Linked DNA regions of Homo sapiens. The protein of the gene in region 1 purifies or fractionates together with the protein of each later gene. This does not show direct contact. Each region holds a gene or a part of one and is shown in the gene's direction. Other genes may lie near its edges. The genes, in order: CFAP69 and B3GALNT2.

What was found.
Region 2: the proteins of CFAP69 (region 1) and B3GALNT2 purify together in Homo sapiens (affinity purification with mass spectrometry; one large-scale study listed by BioGRID and IntAct). This does not show direct contact.

The regions. Positions count from the first base shown.
Region 1 is NC_000007.14:90,272,541-90,276,363, forward strand, and holds part of CFAP69 (cilia- and flagella-associated protein 69), read left to right. Parts: intron 1-1,446; coding exon 1,447-1,570; intron 1,571-3,823. UniProt on the Homo sapiens protein: Cilium- and flagellum-associated protein. In the olfactory epithelium, regulates the speed of activation and termination of the odor response and thus contributes to the robustness of olfactory transduction pathways.
Region 2 is NC_000001.11:235,497,884-235,501,706, reverse strand, and holds part of B3GALNT2 (UDP-GalNAc:beta-1,3-N-acetylgalactosaminyltransferase 2), read left to right. Parts: intron 1-3,823. UniProt on the Homo sapiens protein: Beta-1,3-N-acetylgalactosaminyltransferase that synthesizes a unique carbohydrate structure, GalNAc-beta-1-3GlcNAc, on N- and O-glycans. Has no galactose nor galactosaminyl transferase activity toward any acceptor substrate.

The DNA.
Region 1 (3,823 bases):
AGATCAGTCAGCACATTTTTGTTTGCAAGTGACTAAAAACCCAAATGACCAAAGCAATATAGAAAATTTATGGCTTATTTAACTACAAAGTCAAGGATAAAACTGGTTTCATGTGCAGCTTTATTCAGGGATCAGCAGATACTAGGACTTCGTCCCTCCTCTCTCTACATTGTCTTCCATGGTGCTGGCTTCACACCCAAGCCTATGTAGTAAGACCTAAGAAGTCTACGATCACATCATTTCAACCTCAAATCAAGCAGAAGAGAAACCTTGCTATCCTGAAGGCTCAGAGAAAAGTCTTTGAATTGAGTCCAGTTTGGCCCTGAATGGTCTAATATTGGTCAAATGCCTGTTCCACAGTGATTTATTAGTGCCAAAAGAAAAAATGCTCTGACTGGCGAAAAGGCAGCTGAAGGCAGCCTCACAGGAGCAAAAGTCAGGAAGGAGTAAATGCCTAAATAAAAATAAGAATGCTGTTCTTATAAAAAGGGCAAGTAGGTCCCAGGAGGCAAAGCAACAAATATCTACTATTAATACAAGGGAACCTAACTCAGAGTTGGAGAATTAATAACTGCTTCCTAATGAACTCAAGTCTAGTAACTGAATGACAAACAGGACTTGGTAACAGAAAAGTTTTGCATGCGGAGAGCATCCTAGACAGGGAAAACAAGTGAAAATATAATTAGCAAAATCAGAAAACTAAAATTCAGTATGATGAGAGCAGAAGGAACAGGCTACAATGGTGAGAGATGAGGCTAACAATGTTATCAGGGACCATAACATGAAAGGTCTAATAAGCCTTGTTAAGGAGGTAGGACTTAATCCTAAGAACAAAGAATAGTCTTTAAATGGTTTTACAAAGGAAAATGACATGATTGAATGTGTTATAGAGCTGTCACTTTGACCACCATGTGTAATAGACTGGTTTAGTGGATTCTTATCTGGTACATAGAGGATTAGAGGCAGATTTGGAAGTGTAAAAAATATTAGAAATATGTTCAAATGAATAGTATAATATAAAAAGGGAGATTTTGTTGATAGACATTCAGGAAGTATTTTCATAAAAGTGTGTGTTTTAGTTTGAGCTGCTATAATAAAGTACCGTAAACTGGGTGGTTTATAAACAACAGAAAGTTATTTTTCAGTTTGGGAGGCTAGAATTCTGATATCAGGGTGCCAGTGTGGTTGGGTTCTGATGAGGGTGCTCTTCTGGGTTGCATACTGCTGATCTCTTGTATTCTTACATGGAGGAAAGAGAGCAAGACAGCTCTCTGGAGTCCCTTTTATAAGGGCACTAATTCCATTCATGAGGGCTCATTACCTCCCTAAGGCCTCACTCCTAAAACCATCACATTGGGGGTTAGGATTTAAATATATGAATTTTGGAGGGACGCAAACATTTAGTGTATAACAATATAGTTTTTAAAATATGATTTTACTTTCTAGGGCTTTGAAGGAAGTATTTAAAAATCTGTTTATGAGAGGTTTCAGTCATTATGACCGTCAGCTTAGAAATGACATATTAGTGATCACTACAATTATAGCTCAAAATCCTGAAGCACCAATGATTGTAAGTATGAATCAAATTGCATTAATTTTAATTGTGGAAGTGGTGGGCTTGGGTGAAAGAAGTCCTATATTATGTTGGAATATTTGTGTATTTTCTTGTAATGCTAAGTTATGCTGTAATATCTTGATGGTCACCAGTGTGCTTATCACTCTGCCAATTCTTCTTTGCAATCCTTTGGAAATTTGGAATCTTCCTCATATTGTGTGATTTATACATGTATTTACCACTTATGATGCTTTTCTTTCCTTCCTGATGATTTGAGTTTCCATCTGGCATCATTTCTCTTTCACTGGAAGAACTTTGTTTACAATTTCTTGTGGTGCAAATCTACTGGCTGCTGGCAACAAGTTATCTTAGTTTTCTTTTATCTGAAAATATATTTAATTCATCTTAATTCTTAAAGTCTATGCTCATTGAATATAGAACTCTAGGCTGAAAAATGTTTTTGTTTAGCATTTCAAAGATAAAGTTCTGCTGTCTTATGGAGTCTGTTGTTTCTGATGAGAAATATTCATTGTGAGGTTCCATGGTGTAATGGTGAGCACCCTGGACTCTGATGAGAAGTATCCATTATTTCAAATCGTTATTCCCCTATGTATAATATATCATCCTTTTCTCTCACTGTTTTCAAGATTTTAACTCTATCTTTGGTTCCTAGCAGTTTCGAAATGATGTGCTAAGGTGAGATCTCCTTTGTATTTGTTCTGCTTAGGTTTCATAGAGCTTCTTGGATATATAAATTTAAGTCTTTGAGAAGATTTGGAGAACTCTTGGCCATTATTTCTTCAAATATTTTTTCAGCCCCATTCTCTCTCCCCACTTCTTCAGAGGCTCTGATTACTTTTATGTTTGACTTTTTGATATTGTCCCACAGGTTTGTGAGGCTCTGCTCACTTTTTTCAATCATTTTTCTCTCTATTCTTCAGGTTGGATAATTTGTATTAGTCTATATATTTAAATTCACTGACTTTTTTATTTCTGTCATCTCCATTCTGCTGTTAATCTCATCCAGTGCATTTTTACTTCAGATATATTTTTCAGTTTTAGAATTTATTTTTATTCCTTTTTATAGTGTCTCTCCTGAGAGTTCTTATCTTTCTATTCATTATGAGCATCTTTACTGTAGATTCTGGTATACTCCTCTGAAGAATTTTTAATAACTACATATTTAACTTAGCTGTACTCATCCCTTTTTGAGGTATGGCAGCCCAAATCTTAATTCAGTTCTTGCCTGGGATGCTTGAGTATTCTCTGCACTTGTGTGGTTCAGCTATCAGCCAGATATTTGGGAAGAGTTTGTACACAGAATTTAGCATTCTCTCTCTCTGGCTCTCTCCTTTATGGGATTTCTCCCTTCACTTTCCAATGGCTGTGGTTGCCTCTGCCCTCTGGTTCTTCAGGCCACTAAGACCACAGGGTTACTCTGAGTTTTAGCATTTCCACGAGGTGTAGAATACGGCCTGCTCTCAGGCCAAAAGCCTTTTTTTTTTTTTTTTTTTTTTTTTTTTTGAGACGGAATCTTGCTCTGTCGCCCAGGCCGGAGTGCAGTGGCGCGATCTCAGCTCACTGCAAGCTCCGCCTCCCGGGTTTGCGCCATTCTCCTGCCTCAGTCTCCTGAGTAGCTGGGACTACAGGCACCCGCCACCACACCCGGCTAATTTTTTCGTATTTTTAGTAGAGACAGGGTTTCACTGTGTTAGCCAGGATGGTCTCGATCTCCTGACCTCAGGATCTGCCCGCCTTGGCCTCCCAAAGTGCTGGGATTACAGGCGTGAGCCACCGCGCCCGGCCCCAAAAGCCTTTTTTAAAATGGGAAACTCGTGTAGTGCCATTCCCTTCTACAAAATTCTGACATCCTTCCAGTGTCTGCTTACTCTTGGTCACAAGATAGTTTTATTTGTCACCAGCAGGAGAATTTCTCTCGGAGCTACTACTCATCTGTACCAGAAGCTGAGCCTTCACATATTTTATAATTAAAAATCATTGAATGATTGAAATTATTTAATAGAGATCCTTGGCAACAATATTCACAAGTCAGTCACGTAAGTTCTAGTTGTGCTACAAAGAACTGGCTGTGACGACCTCAGCCCACTAACAGTGGACGTCAAGTAGTCCCAAGAGTCATGGAATTCATGCTGTGCAAATAGGGAAACAGTGCTACATAGTATCCTAGTTAAAGCTGCAACTTATAGGTAGACCTTTGTTTCTCTAGAATCCCCTGGTCAGGTAGTAATTTCTCATTAGTGTCCTTGC
Region 2 (3,823 bases), on another chromosome or scaffold:
TGTTTTTTTTGAAAGAGCGATTTACCTTCCCTGAATATTAAAAAAGGTTCTTTGGCTCGCAGTTGATTCAGCAAATATTTGAGAGCCTACTCTGTGCCAGCTCCTATCGTAGGTGTGGAATTACAGCAGTAATCAAGCTAAACTTCCTGCCCTCATGTAGTTTACAATTTAGAAGGGAAGACAGAGCATCAGGAAATAATTATAAATATCACAGCGGTAGTGATAAGTATAGGGAAAAAAGATAAAGCAGTGTTAAGAGATTAAAGAGATGGTTTTAAATAGGTCAGGGAAGTCCATTCCATTCTGAAGAGGTAACAGTTGAGCAGGGACCAGAATGAAGTAAGTGAGTCACCTTAGTACCAGAGTCAGCAACTTTTTTAATGTGATAGGTTCCCTTAAACCAGTCAGGGAAAGCAACTGGTAAAGAGGAAGTGAAATCCAGTACACCTGAGGGTGACAGAGGAAAATGCAGGTGGAGATAACCATCGGACTAAGGAATCTAAACATAGGATATCTTGATTACAAAATGCTCGTTTTGGGTAATGCCTTAAGTAGGAATTATTTAACGGTTAATTTAGAAAAATGATGTGACAAAAGAAGGCTTCGCTTTCTAGGGTATCTGGAAAGAAAGAAACCAAAACAAAGGAGCATATTCACTCAACAAGTACTTGAGTGTTAGATTCTGTGCTGGATGCCTAGTCCCTTCTCCCAAGGTGCTCACAGTATCTAATGGAAACAGATGTAGAGCAAGTAGAAGGTCAGAAAACAAATTGAGCTTGCTTTGTAATTTTGCCTGGGGTGAGTTCTTCCAAAATTATCCCTATATGCTAATTGTGTCTCTGTGCTTCAGTTTCCTTATTTATAAGATGATGATCTCATAGACTTATTGTGAAGATTCAATTAATGAAACACCCGCAACAGTGCCTGTTTCATAGTAAACACTCCATGAGTTTGAGAGAGGAGTGGTAGTCTGGTGGCCGCTGATGCCTGTGCTAGTGTGGTGTTTTGGGAGGTGTCTTTGGTAGTGTGTATGATGATTGTCTTTATCATTAGATCTGTGACAGGCTCACATGTTTTCTTCATTTTCAAGATTTGTATCTATTTGTGACTCTTCCAAGAGCATGCATATCAGAGTGGAATTTTGGTGTGATTTTTAAGACTCTTGGGCTTATTTTGAGCAATCAATTTTGATGTCAACCTTCTTTAGACTTTTTTGATTATTATTTTGAGGCACAGTTTCACTCTGTCGCCCAGGCTGGAGTGCAGTGGCACCATCTTGACTAACTGCAACCTCTGCCTCCGGGTTGAAGCCATTCTCCTGCCTCAGCCTCTGTTACATGTGTGTGCCACCACACCCAGCTAATTTTTGTATTATTAGTAGAGACTGCGTTTTGCCATGTTGGCCAGGCTGGTCTCGAACTCCTGACCTCAAGCGATTCATTCACCTCGGCCTCCCAAAGTGCTAGGATTACAGGCATGAGCCACTGCGCCAGGCCCTCCCTTAGACTTTAATATACCTTTGGATGTCCACTCACAGTGCAGGGTTGAGCAGGTTGCCAGACTCTCAGGATATATTACATATTAAGAAAAGAAATAGTTCTTACTGTAGGGTCTCAGAAGAAAACAATACCCCAAAATAAGGCCTCAGAAGCAGCTGTCTCTGACCTGCTGCTGCTGTCCTCTCTCTGGCCTTGCATTCTCACCTGAGGCTAGCTGTAGAAACTAAAATCCCTCTTCCCCAAAGCCAGCCATAAAACCTAAACATATTACTCTAACTAGCCCCCACCACCTCCTTTCTATATAAAAATTACCTAACTTACCTTCTTTTATTAAAGGTCATAAGAACCTCATACCAGAGAGGGTCCTATCCCATACCCAGTAGGAAAGAATGTATACTCAGAGAGGACAAGAAGAATCTAGACAGGCCTTGCTGGGTTTTCCAACTCCATCTGTTAACATTAGATCCTACCCTTTCTGTCCAATCTTAATTCCACATAGCTATCTATACTTTGTTAAACCTAAGCACAGAAATGGGCACTTTCTCCTGTATCTTTACTGATCAAATAAATTTATATGCCTTTTCTCCTGTCCATCTCTTGTCAGTGATTTTCACCGAACCTTCAGAGGGAAAACTTTCCCTTGGCCCTTACGTTGCCCTCAGGGAGCTTGCTTGGGATTGTGATTTAGTCCTGACATTATGAAGATTTTGTTTACTGCTGTATCTGTGCCATCTAGAACAATGAGCATAGGAGATGCTCTGTCATTTGAGTGAATAAATCAAGAGAATAAAACTGGCGCAGTTTGATGTATTTTCACAAATTGAACACACCCAACTAATCACCACCCAGATTTAAAAAAAGAAAACTATCAGTGCTTCAGAAGTTCCCTTCATGCTCTGTTTTGTCACTACCAGGGATAGTAACCAGTGGCAGAAATTTGGCTACTTTTGTACTTTATATAAACAGAACCGTCTAGTATCTACATAGTTCCTATCGCCTGTTTATCTTAATATGATGTATTAATAGAATAATGTTTAATGATATGATTAACATGTAATTTTAATGGCTGCATAGTATTCTGTCATATAGCTACACCATAATTTATTTAATGAGTCCTTTATGTGTTTATGTAGCTTGCAGTTTTTCGCTATTAATAGGTGACACTATGATTAATAAAGATCTTCTGAGTGTATCACTGATTATTTCTTTAGAATGAGTTCTTAGAATTGCTGGACAAAGTTACACCATTCTAAATTATTTGACACATTGCCAAATTGCCCTGCAGAAGACTGTACCAAATTACATTCCTTCCCGCAATGAAAAAGAGTAGCCTTTTTTTTTTTTTTTTTTTTTTTTTTTTTTTTGAGAAGGAGTCTAGCTCTGTCACCCAGACTGGAGAGCAGTGGCGGGATCTTGGCTGACTGCAACCTCTGCCTCCCAGGTTCAAGCAAGTCTCCTGACTCAGCCTCCCGAGTAGCTGGGATTACAGGCATGCACCACCACACCTAGCTAATTTTTGTTGTATTTTTAATAGAGATGAGGTTTCACCATATTGGCCAGGCTGGTCTCGAACTTCTGACCTTGTGATCTGCCCTCCTCGGCCTCCCAAAATTGAAGCTGGGATTATAGGCATGAGCCACCGTGCCCGGCGGAGAGTAGCCACTTTGTTGAAATCACTAACAACATTTCCTTGAAGTACCATCATTTAGTTACAATCATTTAAGAAGACATTTGTCAGTTTGAATGTAGGAGAAAACTGGTGTCTCATTGCTCTAATTCAAACTTGATTCTTATTGAAGTTGAACATGTTTTCATAGGCTTGCTATTTGCCTTTTTTCTTTTCTGAATTATCTTTATGTCCTTCTGTATCATGTTTACTTCTTACCACTTTCTTTTTTTCCCTCTGTTTCTAGACACTGGAGTCAACTAGGTACCCTGTTCTTGTAACATAAAAGGTGATAAGAGTTTAGAGCCAGATTGGTAAAGGGAGCTAGAAATTTGAGCAACATTCTTACATAGGTATTTTATTATGCATCTGCTTTGGGTTTTGTACTGTGTAACACAGTACTCAGGAGTCTATTGGACTAATTTACATTAATGGTATGTGGTTAAAAAACCTATTTTTCTGACATTTGACTTCAATATATCTTGAAGTAGTTCTCTAAAAGACCACGATATGCCGTGTTACTTTCCCTCTGCAAGAAAAAGAGAAATGCATGTAAAGTAAAGCAGTTGAACAGAAGCAGCTTAGACATGGATTAGAAGCAGGGGGGATTGAGAGTGGCAGAGAGGTGGAATAAGATCAAAAAGAGGTTTCCATCCAT